Regions from separate parts of the Homo sapiens genome. Here all the other regions are linked to region 4. Evidence: fine-mapped expression QTL. A gene starts in region 4. Each other region holds a variant in brackets. All regions are shown on one strand. Distances are between the middles of the regions. Region 1 overlaps ANXA11 (annexin A11). Region 2 overlaps PLAC9 (placenta associated 9). Region 3 overlaps PLAC9 (placenta associated 9). Region 4 holds the start of ANXA11 (annexin A11).

Region 1 (5,308 bases), 46 kb after region 4:
TGCCCAGTCAGCACTTGCCTCTGCCCTGGTCTCAGACCTGCTGCTCCTGCAGGGTCTGCCTTATTCAGTGTCTCTCTGGCTGGTAACATCCATTCCCATTCTGGGAGTCAGGGCTGGACACGCCTGGGGCTCAGGGCTCTGGCTTTTGCTCCAGCGAGAGTTTTGCATGCCACTTTTAGCGGGGCAAAAATTGTCTCATGCTCTGCCTTCTCAGTCCAGAGCTGCTTTGGCCTCATCTTGACCTGTGGGATCTCAGCCCCTGATTGCTGCTTTCTGCTCTTTTTCAGGGCTGCTACCTGAGGCCTAGCAGGCACTTTAGAGGCCATCTAGTTCAGAGGTTGCAAATTGGCAAATACTTTAGGCTCAAACCTTCAGAAGTTTACCAGGCTCTCCTGGGTGACCTGGGCCTGGGGTCTGGGTGTGGCCTGTGCCACATGTGCGTCTTCCTCTCTCTCCAGGAGCTGTATGCGGCCGGGGAGAACCGCCTGGGAACAGACGAGTCCAAGTTCAATGCGGTTCTGTGCTCCCGGAGCCGGGCCCACCTGGTAGCAGGTAAGGCAGGCTGGGGTCCCTCAGAGGCCAGTTAGATGAGGGCAGTCAGGGGATTGTGGGGAAACAAAGCTATGGGAACACTTGGTCGTTCCTCCCTGCGTGGGGCTTTCGCCTCCTCAAAAGAGCCCCCTGGTGGGAATTTAAAAGACACTGTCAGAGGGTTTCCTGAGTTCTGGCAAACATCCAGTTCTGGAGGTTCTACCGGTGTAGAAACCTGGTGTCTTTGTACGTGGGAATGTGGAACGTCAGAGTTGGGAGGGTCCTTCGGGAGCACCCAATCCAGTGTTTTCCAAAGCCTGGCATAAGAAACAGTCATAACAATAAAACTGGGTGCCATTCATTTACTCATTCATTCAACAGATGTAAATCGCGCTCCCGCATGGGTCAGTCTGTCAGGTGGTGGAGCAGGTGTGGGGCCACGGTGGGGGGCAGGGCACTGCAGAGTGTGTTCCATGGGCTGCACTTTCTCATTTGGGGAGACAGACAGTAAACAACAATGAAATAAAATCTGTATCAGATGGGAAATCCTGTAGAGGAAAATCAAGCTGGAAACAGGTAGGGAGTGATGGTAGGGTCCACCGGGAGGTGCTTGGGCCAGTCCCCACTGAGGTCGTGACATTTGATTTAAAAACCTAAAGGGAGATGCAGGGGCAGAGGCCTGCCTGGGGCTCCCAGCACGACTGAGAACAGTGAAGGGGGACCATGTGGAGCAGGTGGAGTGAGCAAGAGGAGTGGGAGGTGAGGGCAGAGAGGGGAGAGGGCCCTGCTGATGACTTCCCGGAGCTGGGTATTTATCCTGAGCAAAAGAGGAAGCCAGTGGAGGGCCCTGAGCAGAGGAGGCTGTGCAGAATCCCTGGCTGTGGTGCCGAGAATGGAGTGAAGGGTGCAAGGCCAAGCAGCGAAGCCTGTCGGGAGGCTGCTGCAGGGACCCGGGGAGGAATGGTGGTAATAGGGGCTTGTGGTGAGGAGGTGTCAGGTTCCGGCCATGTTTGCTGATGAATTGGACACGTGACGTGTGGGAGAGAGAGGGTTCGAGGATTATACAGGGTTTCTTTAGGCCAAGCAGTGGGAGAATGGCCCTCAACTGAGACAGGGGGACTGTAGGTGGAGCTGGCTTTAGGTGCCTGTAGGGTGGAGCTGCAGGGAGGCTGCTGGGTTGCTGAGTGTGGAGGTCAGGAGAGGTCTGGCCTGGTTGTGGAAGGTAAGGGAGCTATGGGTAGTTGAAGTTATCTGAGGCTCTGGGACTGCAGGAGGTCCCCTCAGGAGGGAGACTGTGGGGAGCCCACCGGTGTGAGGAGACTAAGAAGGAGCAGCTAGGGAGGGAGGAGGACGCAGAGGAAGGGGGTCCTGGAGGCCAGTGTGAGGTGGCAGGCAAGGACTGAGGATGGTGACCACACGGAGCAACTGGTGGGCTGTGGCCAGGGCTGCTCCAGTGGGCAGTGAGGGTGAAAACCCAGCGACCGCTCTGTGCTGCACACAGAGACAGGCGCTGTGGCTCTCCCCATTCGCAGCTGTGAAAGCAGGCACAGGGTGGTAGAGGAAGTAGGGGTGCACAGCTAGTAACAGCTGAGCTGGGATTTGAACCCAGACCACCCGACCCCAGAGCACACTTTTTAACCTCTGCACTATCCTGTAATGGAGCCTGAGTGAAAGCATTTTCATCTTAATCATTATTTCTTTTAATGAGTACAGAACATGTAAGTAGTGCATCAAGCCCATGGCTTCACAAACATTATTACTTAGGAGAAAAGAGTAGCTGATTGGAAGAAGATATTAATTGAGACAGATACACACAGAGCAGAAATCACAACTTTAAAATGCAAATGGTAGCTGAGACTCAGGCTGGGGAAGGAGAGTTTTATGTCCTGGGTCAGAACTGGAGTCAGGACC[A/G]AGGTCTCCATCATGCCACCTGTCTCTCTAGGAGCCAGCCATCCACTCCTGTGGGTGCTTAGCGTGTCCTAGGTCGAGGTGAGCAGCAAGAAGCCAGGCTGGCTGGGGCAGGCTGGGCCTCAGCTCACAGGCAGGCTGAGGAAGACAGATGGATGCATGAATAAAGCCAAGGAATGGCAGAGACTGGAGGTGTGGAGGATTTGAGAAGAGGGGACACTGTCTTGGAGTACATGGGAGTGGGCCCTGGAGGGGTATTAAGGTGCGATTTGGTTAAGCAGATTGGCAGTCCTGAGAAAGGGACCACACAGGGAGGGACATCAGGTGGTGCATGTAACTTGTGACGAAGACTCTGACTTCCTTGAGCGCTAGCAGGCCTGGGGACGTGCAGGGTGTGGGAGCAGAGTGGCAGGTGGGAGATTTTGGGGCAGAGGCCACCTCATGTGAGTCCTCTGTTAGTCTGCTCATGCTGCCATGACAAAATACCACAGACTGGGTGGCTTAAGCAGCAGATACTCATTTTGTTACAGTTTTGAAGGCCAGATATCCAAGAGTGGGGTGCCGGTTTCTCCCGTGGCCTCTTCGTGACAATCACTGTGCTCACATGGTCTTTCCTCTGCATGTGCACATCCCTGGGATCTCTGTGTGTGTCCTAATCTTCTCTTCTTCTAAGGAGACCAGGCGAATTGGATTAGGGTACACCCTAGCAGCATGTTTTAACTTAATTACCTCTTTAAAGATCTTATCTCCAAACACGGTTATATTCTGAAGTCCTGGGAGTTGGGACTTCCACATATGAACTTTGGGGAGACACATTTCAGTTCATAATATAAGCCTCTGTCATCCCCATAGTTTTCAATGAGTACCAGAGAATGACAGGCCGGGACATTGAGAAGAGCATCTGCCGGGAGATGTCCGGGGACCTGGAGGAGGGCATGCTGGCCGTGGGTAAGTGTCTCAGGTTTGCCGCCCACCTGCCAGGGGCTAACGTGTATCGTGAGTGTTCAGGCTGCTCGCCTGTCCTCCAGCTGATGGGTGACACCGTGAAGGGACCACAGGATCCAAGATCGCTCAGCCCAGAGTGTCCAGATGCTGGGAAGTCATGCTGCTTCCCGGTTCCCTGTGCAGTTGAACCCCTAGCTGTCCTGGAGGTGTCTTGTGTGTGTTTGCGGTGCAGCTCTGGAGTAGGGAACTGCAGTGTGGGTATTAGTGGGAGGGCATCCAACTGCGCTCCCGGAGGAGTATGACTCATATCCTGCCACGTTTCCTCTAAAAATACATCCCTGCAGGCAGTTGTCAGATGTTTGTGATGGAAACACGTGGAAAGATTTTTACTTGCAGCAGCGAAACAGGCCCATGCTGAGGAAAGCTGGCTTGGCTCCAGGATGGTGGTGTGCCTCTTACATTGCCCATGTCCTCTAGCAGGGCCCTCCCACTGTGCAGAGTTGGGTCCCTGCCCTGAGGCCCTCACAACCCCTCTTTCTACTCACTTGGGAAAATCAGTCTGCCCCTTTTTTCATTATGCTTTTTTTGGAGCTTTCTGGATGGGAGAGATGGAAAATCCTCATTTCCCTGCCTGTCCCCCATAGTAGGTCTCATGGCCTGGGAAGCCTAGGGAGATGCACATTCCACTCAGCCACGGTTTCTCCATGACGGTCATGGCCTCTCCAGTCTGCCCCTCCTGCCTGAGCAGCAGCACAGTTCCTCATCACCATCCACATTGCTTCCCTGTGTAGCTCCTAGCCCCACTAAGACCCCCGCCCCTCTGACTCTTGGTCCTTTCACCGCAGTGGTTGCCAGGAAAGAGGGTGGGTTGGTTTCCAGGCTTTGCGTGTTTCTGTTCCAAATAGCTGGAGCCAAGATCATGGGATAGTTGAGCCTGGAACAGAAGGAGGAGGAGAAAAGATGGATGCAGTGATGGGTTTGACATCTGGGCCTCTAAGAGGACACTTGTAGACTCCATGCCCTGCTTGGGCTGAGAATTTTCTGCAGATCTGGTTATGCCGAGTTTCTCTCTTCTAGTGAAATGTCTCAAGAATACCCCAGCCTTCTTTGCGGAGAGGCTCAACAAGGCCATGAGGGTATGTAACTTCCATGTGCAGGTTGCGATGGAACCTTAGCCTCGCCTGTGCCTGGGACCAAGGGCTGAGGGCAGAAGGCCTGGGGAGAGCTAAATCTCAGCTGAGAGTTCCGAGGACCTGGGTAGGGAGGGGACTGGAGGGCCCAGGGCAGGTGGGAAGGTGAGGAGGCCTGGTGCTCATGCTCTTGGGTGGACTCTCTTTAGGGGGCAGGAACAAAGGACCGGACCCTGATTCGCATCATGGTGTCTCGCAGCGAGACCGACCTCCTGGACATCAGATCAGAGTATAAGCGGATGTACGGCAAGTCGCTGTACCACGACATCTCGGTACGGGCCTGCTGCAGGCCAACTGGGCTCCCTTTTGGCATCTCAGTCACCTGTGGAACCTCCCTCCTTGGAGTGGCCATATGCTTGGCCTCTGTGCTGTGTGTGGGCATCTTGATTATGGACCTCGGACTTGTTCATCCCCTTGCCCTTAAACAGATTATAAATTTCTGAGGGCAGGTGGATCATGACCTTGCTGTCGCCCCCACCTTGCATCCCCCAGCAGCATCAGAGAACACTCGGGACCTCCCCAACCTTGACCGTGACCTTCAGCGTTCCGATCACCGTGTGATTCCTTGATCTGTCAGTGAGAACTCATGTCCCAAAGGCTCTGTGGAGCTCTGCTGTCACTCCCTGACAAAGCACTTCCTGCACTCAGCTTTATGGCGTAGGCCACATAGTAAGGCCGTTCAGAGCGAGGGCCCTGGGGGTCACGCCACTTGGAGTCCAGCTTTTCTACTTGCT
Region 2 (5,308 bases), 70 kb after region 4:
ATTGTGGGCTGCAGGCATTCATGTAAAATATTCAGAGAGAGAGAGGCCCCTGGGGGCTATGCTCCATCCTGGCCCCACATCCTGAGAAGGCCCTTGAGAGGCAGGAGCAGGTCTAGAGGAGGCTATGGGAAGGGACTCCTCTTTTTTTTTTTTTTTTTTAGACAGGGTCTCACTCTGTCACCCAGGCTGAAGTGCAGTGGCACAATCATGGCTCACTGCAACCTCTTCTTCCCGGGTTCAAGCAATTCTCCCACCTCAGCCTCCAGAGTAGCTGGGACTACAGGCACACACTACCATGCCTGGCTACGTTTTGTATTTTTTGTAGAGATAGGATTTCACTACGTTGCCCAGGCTAAGCTCAAACCCCTGGGCTTAAGTGATCCGCCTGTCTCGGCCTCCCAAAGTGCTGGGATTATAGGAGTGAACAACCGCACCCAGTCTGGGACTCCAAATTTTAACTCAATTCTCTCAGCTGAAACTGGGCTGCTCAGCTTGGAGAGGAAAAGCTCTGAGGGGGCCTCTGTTGTCACCCACAGAGTGGCCGTCCTAGGGGAGGGCCTGTTGTCATGAGTCTGTGGATACACATACCCCCCTGCTGGCTCTGTCCAGAGGCCTTTGGCCAAGCCTTTTCTCTGAGGCTCACCTGCCCTCTCCCAGACCCTAGCCACTCTCCCGTGTAAGGCTCAGGCCAGGGGGATGCAGTGTGACCCTGCCAGCCAAATGGGAGTCTGGCTGCTTTGGAAGTCAGAACAACCAGAGCCTGCTCCCCTCCACTGGCCTAAACCACCCTGTTCTCTACGTGTCTGTGATGAGGTCTAACTTGGCTCCAAAACCCCTCCAGGGAAAAGGCTGGGCTGAGGTCGCTCCCAACATGGCTCAGCACTAATCCTTCACATCTGGACAAAACTGTGCTTTGTGCACCCTGGAGCAACTGTCCGTGAGCTCATCGGGGCCTCCACAGAGTGCATCTGAGAGAGCAAGCTTGGAGCAGGGCCTGACATTGTACTGCCAGCATCCTCACCACAGCGCTGACTTGAACGCATCATGGTAGAAAACATGCTGGAGACCCCTTTTCTCAGCCTGGTTCAGCCACTAATGATTGTGGGATTGTGAGAAAGTTTCTTCTGCTCCCTGAGCCTCTGCTGCCTCTTACATAAAATGGGGTAGGGTAGGCCTGAGGCCCTGACTCCCCCGTGTAGCGCATCCTTAATTCTTCTGTCTTTTGGAGGCTGCAGAGAGGCCTCAAGAATTAGCTAGACGAGCTGGGCTCGGTGGTTCACACCTGTAATCCCAGAGCTTTAGGAGGCTGAGGCAAGAGGATCGCTTGAAGCCAGAAGTTTGAGGTCACTCTGGGCAACATAGTGAGACTCTGTCTCTACAAAAATAAATAAATAAATAAATAAATAAATAAATAAAATAAAAATTAAAAAAAAATTAGCCAGGATTGGTGGTATATACTTGTAGTCTCAGGTATTTGGAAAGCTGAGGCGGGAGAATCGCTTGAGCCCAGGAGTTTGAGACTACAGTCAGCTACGATTGCACCACTGCACTGCAGCCAGGGTGACAGTGAAAGACTGTGTCTTGTAAGAAAATAAATAAATGAATAAAAAATAGTAGACACGCACATGCACCACAGGGCTGTCAGTGGCTCAGACAAGGGGAGTGGAAAAGACTGAAGGATTATGATGATTAACCCTGAGCAGCCAAGGCTGTGGCTCCTCAGGGCTCCCTTCCTTCCTTTCCTCCCGCTCTCCCAGGCCCTGCCAGTTGGGAAATGGACCTCCTTGGATGCTGCGTTGTTTTCTCTGGCCCGGCTCCTGCTAGGGGCCTGATGTGCACCCTGGATGGTGGCCATGGGTGGGGCATCCTGTGCTGGTGAGAACACGCTGCTGTGGAGCCCGGAGGCCCCAGAGGAGGGCTCGGCTGGGCTGGCTGCCCCAGTTAAAGAGACGTGGCCCCTGGGTCCCATCCTCTGAGGCGGAAGTACGGGTGCTTCTACTTACAGGCCTTATGGGGAGACCTTTTGTATCTGGACCCAAACAGTAAGAAAGGGCCACAACACAGATGATTTCTGCATGCTGGGGGTTGAGAAATGTTTTCTCAGTGGCATCTGAAAGGTGCCGCTGTATCTTCTGAATTGTCAAAGTCACACTCTGCTTTGAAAAGCAACCCTGGCCACTTGGGGGTTAATTATATTTGACCACATTCAACATAATAGAATAATAAATTTACCACATCCAATATTTGTATTAAAATGTATGATTCACTCAAAACCATCCACGGGTTTTGATCATTTTTGAAAGCAGCAGAAAACTATTCTTCAAGTGATTTTATAAAAAACTCCAAAATATGGGCCGGGCGTGGTGGCTCATGGTCTAAAAAGCCATCAGGGATAAAGGTTTCTCTGAGTGCTGCTAAAAGAAACCAAGACTTGGGCCCAGCGCGGTGGCTCATGCCTGTAATCCCAGCACTTTGGGAGGCCGGGGCAGGCTGATCACTTGATGTCAGGAGTTTGAGACCAGCCTAGCCAACATGGTGAAACTCCCCCGCAGCCCCCGTCTCTACTAAAAAATGCAAAAATTAGCTGGGTGTGGTGGTGCACACCTGTAATCCCAGCTACTTGGGAGACTGAGGCACGAGAATTGCTTGAACCCAGGAGGCAGAGGTTGTGATGAGCTGAGATCGCACCACTGCACTCCAGCCTGGATGACAAAACAAGACTCTGTCTCAAAAAAAAAAAAAAAAAAAAAAGGCCGGGCGCAGTGGCTCACACCTGTAATCCCAGCACTTTGGGAGGCCGAGGCGGGCAAATCACAAGGTCAGGAGATCGAGACCATCCTGGCTAACACAGTGAAACCTCATGTCTACTAAAAATACAAAAAAAATTTAGCCGGGCATGGTTGCAGCCGTCCGTAGTCCCAGCTGCTTGGGAGGCTGAGGCAGGAGAATGGTGTGAACCCGGGAGGCGGAGCTTGCAGTGAGCGGAGATCGCACCACTGCACTCCAGCCTGGGAGACAGAGCGAGACTCCATCTCAAATAAATAAATAAATAAATAAA[C/TAAATAAAC]AAACAAACAAACCAAGGTTGGAAGTTGGACGTGCTAGAGATAGCTCTCAATTTATAGAAAATATAAGGGGTGGAGGTATTTAAATGACATAAAAGGGATGCAATTAGCAAAATCTAAATGTGGAAAACTTTACAGGACAAACTTAGTTTCTTCAACAAAAACAAAAAATTAAGTAAAAAAAGGGGAGAGAAGACTTACATATTTAAAGAGATCTAACAGACATATTGACCAAATGCAGTGTATGTAACCTTATTTGGATCAAACAAATGAATTGCAAAAAGATATGACACAATCAATCAAGGACATTTGAACAGTGATTGAATATTTAATGATATTCAATCACACACAGTTTTTGGAGTATGATCATAGCATTGCAGTTATGTTTATTAAGAGTGCTTATCTCTTAGAGGTACACAAAGAAATATTTATAGATGAAAATACATGATGCCAGGCCAGGCATTGTGGCTCACACCTGTAATCCCAGCACTTTGGGAGGCCAAGGCAGGTGGATCACTTGAGCCCAGGAGTTCGAGACCAGCCTGGCCAACATGGTGAAACCCTATCTCTACTAAAAATACCAAAATTAGTCAGGTGTGGTGGTGCGTGCCTGTAGTCCCAGCTACTCAGGAGGCTGAGGCAGGAGAATCAGTTGAACCCGGGAGACGGAGGTTGCAGTGAGCTGAGATTGTGCCACTGCATTCTAGCATGGGTGACAGAATGAAATCCTGTCTCAAAAAAAAAAAAAAAAGAAAGAAAGAAAGAAAGAAAATATACAATGCCTGGATTTCCTTTAAAATAATCCAGGGAGGGGAGAGAGGGTGGAGGCTATAGATGAGATAAAACTGCCCATGAACTGATACTTCTTGAAGCAGCGTTGATAAGTATATTACATGATTCTTTCACATACTATTACTTTGTATTTTTTTGTATCCAAAAGTTTTCATAATCAAAAGTTAAGATATATCATCTAAAATCTGAAAGATTATGCACAAAAATATATGAAATCAGTGTGAAATTACACTAATACATGAATACTTTCCTCCTTTCCTTCTTCTTTTTTTTTTTTTTTTGAAACTGAGTCTTGCTCTGTCACCCAGGCTGGATTGCGGTGGCTTGATCTCGGCTCACTGCAACCTCCGCCTCCCAGGTTCAAGTGATTCTCCTGCCTCAGCCTGCCGAGTAGCTGGGACTACAGGCATGTGCCACCACGCCCGATTAATTTTTTGTATTTTTAATAGAGACAGCATTTCACCATGTTAGCGAGGCTGGTCTTGATCTCCTGAGCTTGTGATCCGCCCGCCTGAGGGGTAGGTGAGGGGAAGAAAGCGGACAGTGAAAAGCAAGGAACCCAGCTAATGGAGTACCCAGACAGCCTCTCTCCTCCGCACAGCTCTCCACCTCCACCCAGTCCCCCATCTCCACCCAACATAGCTCAGTTTCCCAGAGAAGCTCCCTGGAAACCGGGAGGCTGACTTCTTCACTGACTGCAGATCCACCTGAGGCCACCTGGCAGGTGAATCGGTGGCCTTTCTCCTGGGCCCGACTGCCTGGTTCCTTAAGGCTGTGCTGGGCTAGCCTGGGTCACTCATCCTTTGGAGTGTGGCTTCTTATGCAATGTCCTATAAAGCCAGGCCTGAGCCTCCACAGGCCCTCTGAGATGGAGCTGGCCTCCGGGGCTGCCCCACCCAGCAGCTGTGACCTCCCACTCCAGATCCTGGCTCCTTCTCTCTTGCCAGCTCTACTCCGGGCATCGAGCTTCCCTCTCTCTCCTTTTTGGTCTCTCTCAAATCTTTCTCTTTTCTTCAATATCCTCTCTCCCTCCACCCCTTGCCATTTTAATCACTTTTTCTCTTTCCTTCTTCTCTTTTGTCTCTCAAACTCCTTTTTCTTTCTATCTTAGTTCATATCTGTTCAGGGGAAGCCTCTTTCTGTCTCAGCCTCTCCTTTTTCCTTTTCACTGTGTATTCTTCCCTATCTCCTTTATCTCTCCGTTGCTCTACTTCTCTGCCTTTTTCTGAGTCTGTTTCCTCTCAATCTTTCTCTCCATCCCTCCCTCCCTGCATCTGCCTCTCTGTCCATCTCGCTGCTGTGTCCAGCTCTCTCTCCGTCTCTCTCGCTCATTCCTTCCTCGCCATCTGCGGGTCTCCCCGGCTCCAGGTCCCCTGCCGCGCCCTGCGCCCCACTCACCGGCCAAAGAGCCCGCGGCGCGGAGCAGGGCCAGTCCGGTCAGCGCGCAGAGCAGGGGCCGC
Region 3 (5,308 bases), 58 kb after region 4:
GACTTAAAAAGGAAGAAGACAAAAATCAGCAAACTTCAAGATAGGTCAATTGAGATTACCCATTCTGAGGTGCAGAAAGAAAACAACAACAACAAAAAAGCTAACTGAGCCTAAGACACCTGCAGGACACCATCAAGTGTACCAACATACACCTAATAAGAATCAAGAGAAGAGTGAATGTAGAAGAAATTTTTAAAGAAACAATGGCTGAAAACATAATGAAAGACATTAATCTACACATACAAAAAGCTCAATGAATTGTAAGTAGGGTCAACTCAAAGAGACACTCAGTGTGACATTGAAACACATTATAATCATACTGTCCAAAAGCAAAGCAAATCCTGAAAGCAGAAAGAGCCACTGGACACGTACAAGAAATCTTCGATAAGATTAATAGCCAATTTCTCATCCAACATCATGGAAGTGAGAAGGCAATGAGATGACATATTCAGTGTGCTGAAAGGAAAATCTTGGGTGGTCTTGATACTTGTAGATGTTCATCTGTGTCTGAGCATTGAAGAGTTAGGTATTTATCATAGTCTTCACAGTCTGTGCTTGTTTGTACCTATCCTTCTTGGGAAGGCTTTCCAGATATTTGAATGGCTTGGGTGTTGTGCTCTAAGCTGTATCTGCTTAAGGATTCACCCCAAGCCCAATAACACTTTGGTTTTTTTTTAGCCTCATAGAGTTACTGCCTTGATGGTCTTGGACAAGATTCAGGATTCTCTGTATTACCATACAGAGACTCTTGTTCATTCCGTTACTGTCTCCCAAACAAAGGGAGTCCCTTTCTCTGTTCTAAGCCACCTGAAGCTGGGGGTGAAAGGACACAAGCACCCCTGTGGCCACCACCACTAGGACTGCACTGGGTCAGACCTGAAAGCCAGCACAGCACTGGCTCTCACCCAAGGCCTGCAGTTACCACTCCCTGGCTACTGCCTGTGTCTGCTCAAGGCCCTGGGGCTCTACAATCGGCTGGTGGCAGAGCCAGCCAGGCTTGTGTCCTTCCCTTCAGAACAGCAAGGTCCTCCAGGCCCCAGCTGGGCCCAAAGGTGCCATCTGGGAGCCAGCAACTAGGGTAAAAAATCTTAGAAGTCTACCTGGTGTTCTGTTATACTGCAGGTGAGCTGGCACTGAATCCACAAGATGCAGTCCTTCCCTCTCTTGCTTCCGCTTTCCCAAGGCAGAGGTGCCTCACTCCATGGCCACCGCCACCACAGGCCCACAGGGAGTACTGCCAGACTACTGCTGATGTTCTCTTAAGGCCCAGGGAGTCTTCAACCAGCTGGTGGTGAATGCTGCCTGGCATGGGACCCCCCCCTCCAGGGCAGTGGGCGCCCCTCTGGCCCAGGGTAGGTCCATAAATGCCATCTAAGAGACAAGTCCTGGAATTGGCATTCCCAAGAACCATTTGGTGCTTTACTGTCCTGTGGTTGAGCTGGTATCTAAGGTGTAAGACAAAGCCCACTTTACTTTTCCCTCCACTTTTCTCTAGCAGGAATCTTGCCTTGTAACCACCACAGCTGGGAATGTGCTGGCTGAATCTGAACCTGAAACCGACAAGACCGAGTCTCACCCAAGGCCCTCAGCATAGTACCCAGGTATCTCTGCTGGTTATTCAGGGACCAAGGGCTCTTCAGTTAACAGGCAATGAATGCAGCCAAGACTGGGTCCTTTCCTTCAAGGCAGTGGGTTCCCTTCCAGCCCAGGGTGTGTCTAGAATTGTGGCCCAGGAACGAAAATCCTGAACAACATGCTGGCAGACTAAATCCAGCAGCATATTAAAAGCATTATACACCATGACCAAGTGAAATTTATCCCAGGACTGCAAAGGTCATTTAATATATGAAAATCAGGCCAAGCACAGTGGCTCACTCATGCCTGTAATCCCAGCACTTTGGGAGGCCAAGGCGGGTGGATCACCTGAGGTCAGAAGTTCAAGACCAGCCTGGCCAACATGGCGAAACCCTGTCTCTACTAAAAATACAAAAATTAGCCGGGTATGGTGGTGGGTGCCTGTAATCCCAGCTACTCGGGAGGCTAAGGCAGGAGAATTGCTTAAACCTGGGAGGCAGAGGTTGCAGTGAGCTGAGATCGTGCCACTGCACTCCAGCCTGAGCAACAGAGTGAGACTCTGTCTTAAAAAAAAAAAAAAAAAAATCGATGTAATGCATGTAATTAATAAAATGAAAGGGGAAAATCACATGATCATCTCAATTGATGCAGAAAAAGCATTTGAAAAAACCCAACATCCTTTCATGATTAAAAAAACACTCAACTAAGACTAGAAGGAAAATGTCTCAACCTGCTAGAGGGCATCTATGAATAAGCCACAGCTAATATTGCAGGTGGGAATGTAAAATAGTACAGCTGCAATACAAAAGAGTTTGGTGGTTCTTCAAAAAGTTAAACGTAAGAGTTACCATGTGACTCAGCAATTTCATTCCTACATATAGACCCAAAACAAATTAAAAAACAAATATTCACACAAAAACTCATACGGATGTTCATAGCAACATTATTCATGATAGCTAAAAAATGCAAACAACCCAAATGTCCCTCAATTGTCGAATAAATGAATAAAATGTGGGCCAGGTGTGGTGGCTCACACCTGTAATCCCAGCACTTTGGGAGGCTGAGGCGGGTGGATCAAGAAGTCAGAAGTTCAAGACCAGCCTGACCAACATGGTGAAACCCTGTCTCTACTGAAAATACAAAAATTAGCCAGGCGTGGTGGTGTGCACCTGTAATTCCAGCTACCCAGGAAGCTGAGGCAG[G/A]AGAATTGCCTGAACCCGGGAGGCAGAGGTTGCAGTGAGCTGAGATCATGCCACTGCACTACAGCATGGGTGACAGAGCGAGACTCTGTCTAAAAAAATAAAAGAATAAAATGTGGTATATTCATACAATGAAACATTATTCATCCGTAAGAAGGAATTAAGTACCGATACATGCTACAATACAGATGGCCCTTGAAAACATTATGCTCAGAGAAAGAAGCCAGATACAGCTAGACTACGTATTGTGTGATTCTACCTACAGTACTACCCCCTTACCTTCAGGGGATAAATTTCAATACCCCTAGCAGATGCCTGAAACCACAATAGTATCTAATCCTATTATACTATGTTTTTTCCTATGCATGCATACCTATGAAGTTTAATTTATAAATTAGGCACCATAAGAAATTAGCAACGATAGCTAAGAATAAAATAGAACAATTAGAACAATATGCCAGCTTCTGTGAAGGGAGAGTTGTGTGAAAAACAACAACCATATGCCAGCAGCACTGCTCTTGCACTTTGGGTCTTGATTAAGAGAAAGAAGTGTTGCTGGAACACAAGCACTGTGATACTGTGGCCATTGATCTGGTAACTGAGAAGGCTGCTAAGTGACTAACAGGCAGGAAGTGTAGACGGCGTGGACCATGCTGGACAAAGGGAGCATTCACATCCGGGGCGGGATGAAGTGGGATGGCAAGAGATTTCATCACGCCACTTAGAATGATGTGCAATTGAAAACTCATATATTGTTTATTTCTGGAGTTTAATATTTTAGGACTGTGGTTGACTGCAGGTAACTGAAACCATGGAAGGTGAAACCACAGATAAAGCCGGACTACTGTATTTAAAATGTCCAGAATAGGCAAGTTCGTGAAGACAGAGATCAGTGGTTTCCAGTGGGGTGTGGGGAGCGGGAATGGGATGTGACTGCTTAATAGATACACAGTTTCTTTCTAGAGAGAGAACAATGTTCTGGAACTGGTGGTGATGACTGCACAACTTCTGAATGTACTGGAAGCCACTGCATTTGTACAATTTTTTTTCTTTTTCTTTTTTTTTTTTTTGAGACAAGGTCTCACTGTCTCCCAGGCTGGAGTGCAGTGGCATGATCATGGCTCACCACAGCCTTGACCTCCAGGGCTCAGGTGATCCTCCCACCTCAGCCTCCTGAGTAGCTGGGACTACAGGCACGTGCCACTATGCCCGGCTAATTTTTGTATTTTTTTGTAGGGATGGGGTTTCACCATGTTGCCCAGGCTGGTCTCAAACTTCTGGGCTCAAGTGATCCTCCTACCTTGGCCTCCCAAAGGGCTAGGATTATAGGTGTAAGCCACCGCCCCCAGCCTTGTACAATTTAAAATGGTTAAAATGATGAATTTTACATTGAATTTCACTTCATAGGAAAAATTTTTAAAAACAACAACAAACCACTTTAATGGACACATAAAATCCCTGGGGGTCTCATTGCAATGCAGATTTGGATTAAACAGTCTGGGTGGGTCCTGAGACCCTGATCCCCTTGCTTTTCACCTATGGCCACATTTTGAGAAGCAAGGCCACTCAAAGGGCCCCCATCTGTGTGAATCAACCCCTGCTCCATCTGCCCCTATAAATGACAGGAGTGGGGGTGTCCCCAGGTCTGAGCCTGGAGGGGGTTGCAGGCTTCCTCCAGGCATGGAAGTGGAGTGAGAGGAGGCTGTAGTTAAACGGGTTACTCTGTCAGCAGACACAGAGGAGACCAGAATAGCTTTTATTTCACATGAAGCTAAGGAAGGAAGTCGAGAGGACAGGGCTGGTTCTGTGGGCGCTGCCTGGCAGGTGCACCACCTCCAACTGCTGGGCTCCAGCTCCAGGGCTCAGAAGCCATCTGAAAGAAAGCAGAGGCCCCCAGTGAGCAAGCTGGGGTGCCGCAGAGTACCTGCCCCCGTGGTGCCCAGCAGTTCCTTCCCTTCCCTCCCCGGCCCCCAGGAACTACTGCGCGCGGGACACAAGGATCAAGGAGAGAGCAGAGTGCAACCCCAACCCTGCCTGATCAGTGGGGACGCCCGTCTTCCCTGCGAGAGTTTTGGGGTGGAACAGGAGTGGCTGCTCAGGGGAAAATTAAAGGAGCTGAGAAGCTCCAGTCGTGAGAAGGCTAATGAAGGAGGCAGTTTCTCCGCGCAGGGGTTGTGCTGAGATGGCATCTAGGGCCGGCTCTTCCAGAACCTCATTTGACACTGGGCGGCAGCCACCGGGTGTGGCAGGTGGGGCGGGGCGGGCGGGGAGCAGGGATGATGCCGTCCCGCTTCCGTCCCCAGGGAGCGCTGGGGCCCTCCCTGCCAGCCAGGCTACACCTGTGCAGTGGAGCAGCCGTCCCTGTCTCGCCTGCCCAGCGCCAGATGACAGCCGCCCAGAGGCTGTCCTCTGCCACCTGCACTGCTCACCTCCGAGAAGGTCGGGAGCGGGGCTGAAGGGTCCCGGGGGCAGGTTCCAGGCCAGCTCCTCCAGCAGGCCCAGCAGGCCTTTCACCTCTGTCCCCAGGTGATCCA
Region 4 (5,308 bases):
GCCTGGGCGGTGACCCCTGCCATTGGCCTTGAGGATTAGGGCCTCAGCTCGGGTCCTCTGCAGAGCCTCCTCAGTCCCTAGCAACTTGCTGGCACCTAGCCGGGGCTAAACGCAGGTTTGTTGAAAATTATAAAAGGGTAAGCCCAGGGGTAGCTATTCACCATTCTGGGTTTGAAGAGCTCTGATGCAGAAAGGTGTATACATCCAGCAGGAATTCCACCCTACATGATTTATTATAAACGTGGTATTCTAGGAGCATTCGCTCAGCCACGGAGAAAAATGGGCCTTTCGAAGAAGCTGGCCTTCGCGGTCGCTGTGGGGCGGCAGAGCAGGCGCAGGCGTCCAGGCAGTGGGGGCTGGGTAGGCGCCAGGAGACCTTCCCGGACCAATCCCCGGGCCCAGAGAGAGCGCCTGGAGACCTTACCTCCCCAGGAAATTCACACAGATTTCTTGGGGGCTTCACACCCGCGCCCCCAGTCCCGCCATCTCCTACGCCGCAGCAGGCGCCCCCACCAGGGTAATAACCCACTCTGAGAGTCTCTGGTGGTGCCTCTGATCCTCTGCTCTTCTGTTCCAGGCAGCGTTTTCTCCGAGCGGCTCTGGAGACTTTGGCCTGAGTTTCACCCTCACTCGCCGACTCATGTCCAAAAAATGCAGTCCAGCCCCGAAAGAGAGCCGCGCCTGCTGGTGGGGGTAGGGGGTGTTGGAGCGGCCACGGAATATGACTGAGCGCCCGGGGCCCGTTGTGAGGCCGGGGCCAGGCTGTCCCAAGGCACCGTTCCTGCCCGGCACCAGCACACCTGCCCAGACAGGGAGAAGGTCGGAGCCTCCCCTCCAGTCCTTCCGGATTTTATTGTTCAGAGCGACTTTAAAACGCAAATCGGGCCGGGCGCGGTGGCTCACGCCTGTAATCCCAGCACTTTGGGAGGCCGAGGCGGGCGGATCATTTGAGCCTAGGAGTTCGAGAACAGCTTGGCCAACATAGTGAAACCCCGTCTCTACTAAAAATGAAAATTAGCCGGGCGTGGTGGTGGGCATCTGTAGATCCAGCAACTCAGGAGGCCGAGGCAGGAGAATCGCTTGAACCCGGGAGGCGGAAGTTGCAGTGAGCCGAGATCGCGCCACTGCACTCCAGCCTGGGCGACAGATCGAGACTCCGTCTCAGAAAAAAAAAAAAAAAAAGGAAAATCGAACCAGCAGCTTGTTTGTAACAGCCAAACATAGGCAACAACCTAAATGTCCTTCAGTAAGGAGCTAGGTAATGAAGAATGGTGAAGCGCACGATGGCGCGCAGTGTGCAGTGGATGGGAAGAACCAGGTCTGTTCAGGAGCACTTGTATGGAAAGACCCTCCAAGATATAGTGAGTAAAAAAACATGTTGCAGAAAAGTACTGCAATATCGTTTTGTAAACAATACGTTTATGTAAACACACACACACAGTGTTAAAGAGAGATATTTGGAAGGACACACCTAAGAGTGGGCTGGGGGAGTGGAGGGAAGAGTGAATCTCAATTTTTACTCATTTTTTGAATTTTTTATTTTTAGTTTTTTAGAGACTGGGTCTCACTATGTTGCCCAGGCTAGTCTGGAAGCCCTGTCTTCAAGCCATCCTCCTGTCTTGGCCTTCCAAAGTGCTGAGATTACAGGCGTCAGCCACCACTCATTAAAAAAAAAAATTGTATACCTACCATATATGCATATATTACCTGGGTGACCTTTTAAAAATATGCTTTATTTTTAGAACATCTTTAGATTTACAGAAAAAGTGTGAATACAGGGAATTCTCATAAACCCGGGCTTTTCCTATTATTAACATCTTAAGTCATTTTTATATCTCCGTGGGTTCCTCTTGGCTGTGACAGTGTCCTAGACTTTCCTTGTTTTTGATGACCTTGCTAGTTTTCAGGAGTACTGGTCATGTATATGGCAAGGGCCTCAATTGATTTGTGATGTTTTCCTCATGATTACAGTGGGGTTAGGTGTTCTTGGGAGGAAGACCACAAGCGGTGCATGCAATCAGTATGATTTACCCCTGTCGAGGTCACCTTGACGGCTGGGTGGTTTGTCAGGTTTCTCCACGATAGTCACTGACCGCTCCCTTCCTCACATACTGTGCGTGACCTTCCCCCCTCCACCACCACCGAGTGTTGCTATAAAGGAAATGCGTTTGACCTTTTCAGTGTAAAAAGTTTTCTCGACCTTAAAGAGAGTCACTAACCGACGCACACGGGGCTGGAGAGGACTTAGGAAATGCCCACCCCTGCAGGAGGGCGAATGCGGCTCTGCGCGGCACTGGGCGCCGCAGGGGTTAGGGGCGGCAGAGGGACCTCCGGAGCCCGAGACTTCCTGGAGCAGCTCCGCAGCCGGAAGGCTGCTGCTCCTCGCGGGCCCGCCGTGCCCAGTCCTCATCTTGGGGGCGGGGCCGCGCTCAGGCCCCGCCCCTCCCTTGCACTGCCTCTGGCACCTGGGGCAGCCGCGCCCGCGGAGTTTTCCGCCCGGCGCTGACGGCTGCTGCGCCCGCGGCTCCCCAGTGCCCCGAGTGCCCCGCGGGCCCCGCGAGCGGGAGTGGGACCCAGCCCCTAGGCAGAACCCAGGCGCCGCGCCCGGGACGCCCGCGGAGAGAGCCACTCCCGCCCACGTCCCATTTCGCCCCTCGCGTCCGGAGTCCCCGTGGCCAGGTGAGTGAGGGTCCCGAGCCGGCTGGGGGCCTGGGACCAGGCGGCGGCAGTGCACCGCGGCGCCGCGGGTGAGGCCCGGGGCTGCCTGGCGCCCAGCCCAGCGCGGCCCTGCGGCTTCCTGGTTGCACTACAGGCGTGGGGGTGGGGGGCAGGGGAGGGCGTCGGCGGGTCGCGGGCGGGCCGTGTCGGCCTGGCAGCCCCCTAGATCAGCCTCGGCGTCTGGGGCTGCTCCCTCATGTGTGGTCGGGGTGCACTCGCCGTCCCCCCGGGCTCAGGGGTCGGGGTCTCAGTCTGGGCCTGGGTAGGGCCAGGGGCCGTGACCCTGGGCGCAGGAGGCAACGGGTGGCGGGAGGGGTGCCGGAGGCCCGGCCCCGCAGCCCTGCGGAGCCCTCCAGGGTGCGCGCGCCCTTCTAGGCGAGGCTTGGGGAGATTAAGCAGAGAAGGCTATCTTCAGGAACTTTCCTCCGAAACTGGGAGCACGCACATTCCTGGGAGCTGCTACCATTGCAGTTTATTTGTAAGGAACTCTCCCCAGTGTTTGAGGGAATGCGGGAGCCATCCCAGGTGCTGTGCGTGCCTTCGCCCCTTCCCCAACCTTGATCCCCAGTTTCAGGAAGGGATTCCTGGACTTGTATCTCCCATGGGTGCAGGCCAGGCCCTTAAGACTTAGGTAAAATGGTCTGTTGGTTTAAAGGAGACACGCGAAGTTTGTTACCTAGAGACTTTGGAGGGGAAAAGTTAAGCCAGCCAGTGCTAGCCCAAGCTGGAAACAGTCAGCCCGGGGCATTTCTGTCTCTGCCCTCCAATCCTTGACCTCTCTGTAGAGATTCGGCGTTTGTGGTAGCTCTCCCCTCTGTTCTCTGCGCTGGGCATGGAGTGGAGCTGTGAGGCCGAGCCCCTGCCCTGCCCTGCCCTGCCCTGCCCACGCAACAGGGACTAGGTTTGCAGGGCAGGGCCTGGTATGCTCACCCTTCACTGGCTCTCATTGCTTTCCTCATTCCTTTTATGCGGCAGTCAATTGTTGGGGATTCCAGGGGATTAACAGGGCCCCTTTCCTCAAGGCATTCTTTGTGCTGCAAGGTGTTCCCTGATAAGAGAGGCCAGGTGAGGTGCCAGGGCAGTTTGTTGCCCTGGCATTGGGTGCCCACTACTTCAGGCTCCTGCATACCTTGCTATCTTTTCTTTGACTATTGTCTGTGCTTTGGTTTTTCATCTGTAAAATGGGGGTAATAGTAATCCCTGCCTCACAGGCTTGTGAGATTCAGTGCATTCATTTATTTAATAACAATACAGAGCTCAGGTACGGACCAGTCAGAACAGGTGGTGACTGCTGCACCACACTTGTGTATCCCAGATGGGTGTCACCCACATTAGCCATAAAGTGTGTGAGGCAGGCCTGGGTCATAAATAATCAGGTGTAAGGGTCAATAAATAGTAGCAGTGGAAGGTTCAGCTAAAGTTGAAATGCACTTCTCCTGAACCGTCTTTCTGGCTTAGCTCATGCTAAGCTCATGCTCTCTGTCTTACTGGAATGCCCTCCCTCCCCTGTCTGGCCTAGCATTCTCCACCCTCCTGGGAGCCATCCGGGTGCCTGCTCCCAGCAGGAGGGACGGGATATGCTCTGAGCTCACTCAGCCCTTCTGGCACTGACTCGGTTCTCATCTCTCGCCTTGCATAGTATTTGTGTGGCGGTGTGGCTTATCGCTGCCCTGTCCTCTGACTCTGGAGGGTGGGGGCTGTTTCTGACTTACCTCTTGGTGGCAGCACTCAGGATGGGCCTTGCCTAATGTAGGTGCTCAGAAAATTAGTTGTCGTTAGTTGAACAACAGAGACAGCACAGGGAAGTGGTTTCCCTGTGGTTAAAATATAGGACCTTGAAGGCTGGGTTTGGATAGAGAAACGTGGGGAGGGTGAGATGGAGATGAATTGGGACTAAGAGGTGGGAGTGGAAGCCTCACCTGACGCCTTTATGCATGATACTATAGAAAGGGCCCACCCTGGGTGGATGTGTCTAGAAGGCCAGGATCGATTAGTGATGCCTAGTTCACGTGATTGGGGAGGTGATGTGTGGCTTGGGATGACAGGAGTGGGAGTTGAGACAGAATAGGTTAGTGTGGGTTCTTCTTGGAAATTGTAGAATAGAGAAAAGAAACTGGTGTGGGCAGGAGCTGAATGTGGAACCAAAATGCATGCTGAATGCTGGAACATCAGAGGTCCTGGGACCTTTCTGGTGCACCCCCTCCTTCCTCCTGGATTCACCCCTCTTCTTCTGCTGTCTTTTTTTTTTTTTTTTTTTTTGAGACAGATTTCGCCCTGTCACCCAGGCTGGAGTGCAGTGATGCAATCTTGGCTCACTGCAACCTCCGCTCCCTGGGTTTAAATGATTCTCCTCCCTTGGCCTCCCGAGTAGCTGGGATTACAGGCATGCACCACCATGCCCGGCTAATTTTTGTATTTTTAGTAGAGACGGGGCTTCACCATGTTGGCCAGGCTGGTCTTGAACTCCTGACCTCAGGTGATCTGCCTGCCTCAGTCTCCCAAAGTGCTGGGATTACAGGCATGAGTCACCGTGCCCGGCCTCCTCTCTCTTCTTAGCCACTGTTTTCCCCCGTAAGCCTGAAGCAGTTCC

What was found. PIP is the estimated chance that this variant, and not a neighbour inherited with it, causes the effect.
Region 1: its variant is fine-mapped to the expression of ANXA11 in whole blood (INTERVAL, PIP above 0.99).
Region 2: its variant is fine-mapped to the expression of ANXA11 in whole blood (INTERVAL, PIP 0.98).
Region 3: its variant is fine-mapped to the expression of ANXA11 in whole blood (TOPMed, PIP 0.97).

Annotation. Positions count from the first base shown.
Region 1 is chr10:80,157,179-80,162,486 of GRCh38, reverse strand. ANXA11 (annexin A11) reads left to right here. Exons shown (of 16, transcript NM_145868.2): 12 at 459-552; 13 at 3,292-3,387; 14 at 4,462-4,520; 15 at 4,724-4,846. Among named protein-coding and RNA genes, the nearest start is that of PLAC9, 27 kb to the right of the region's middle. RefSeq lists enhancers at 3,467-4,008, 3,106-4,305. The variant A/G (reference allele first, on the strand shown) is at 2,443.
Region 2 is chr10:80,132,765-80,138,072 of GRCh38, reverse strand. PLAC9 (placenta associated 9) reads right to left here. Exons shown (of 4, transcript NM_001012973.3): 1 at 5,247-5,308. Among named protein-coding and RNA genes, the nearest start is that of PLAC9, 2.7 kb to the right of the region's middle. The variant C/TAAATAAAC (reference allele first, on the strand shown) is at 3,059.
Region 3 is chr10:80,144,239-80,149,546 of GRCh38, reverse strand. PLAC9 (placenta associated 9) reads right to left here. Exons shown (of 4, transcript NM_001012973.3): 3 at 5,204-5,308; 4 at 4,188-4,647. The coding sequence ends at 4,637. Among named protein-coding and RNA genes, the nearest start is that of PLAC9, 14 kb to the right of the region's middle. The variant G/A (reference allele first, on the strand shown) is at 2,778.
Region 4 is chr10:80,202,714-80,208,021 of GRCh38, reverse strand. It overlaps ANXA11 (annexin A11), which reads left to right and starts at 2,485. Exons shown (of 16, transcript NM_145868.2): 1 at 2,485-2,679. It overlaps LINC00857 (long intergenic non-protein coding RNA 857), which reads right to left and starts at 312. Exons shown (of 2, transcript NR_038464.1): 1 at 1-312. RefSeq lists enhancers at 204-845, 1-1,075, 846-1,487, 4,127-4,206, 4,707-4,796 and a silencer at 2,262-3,141.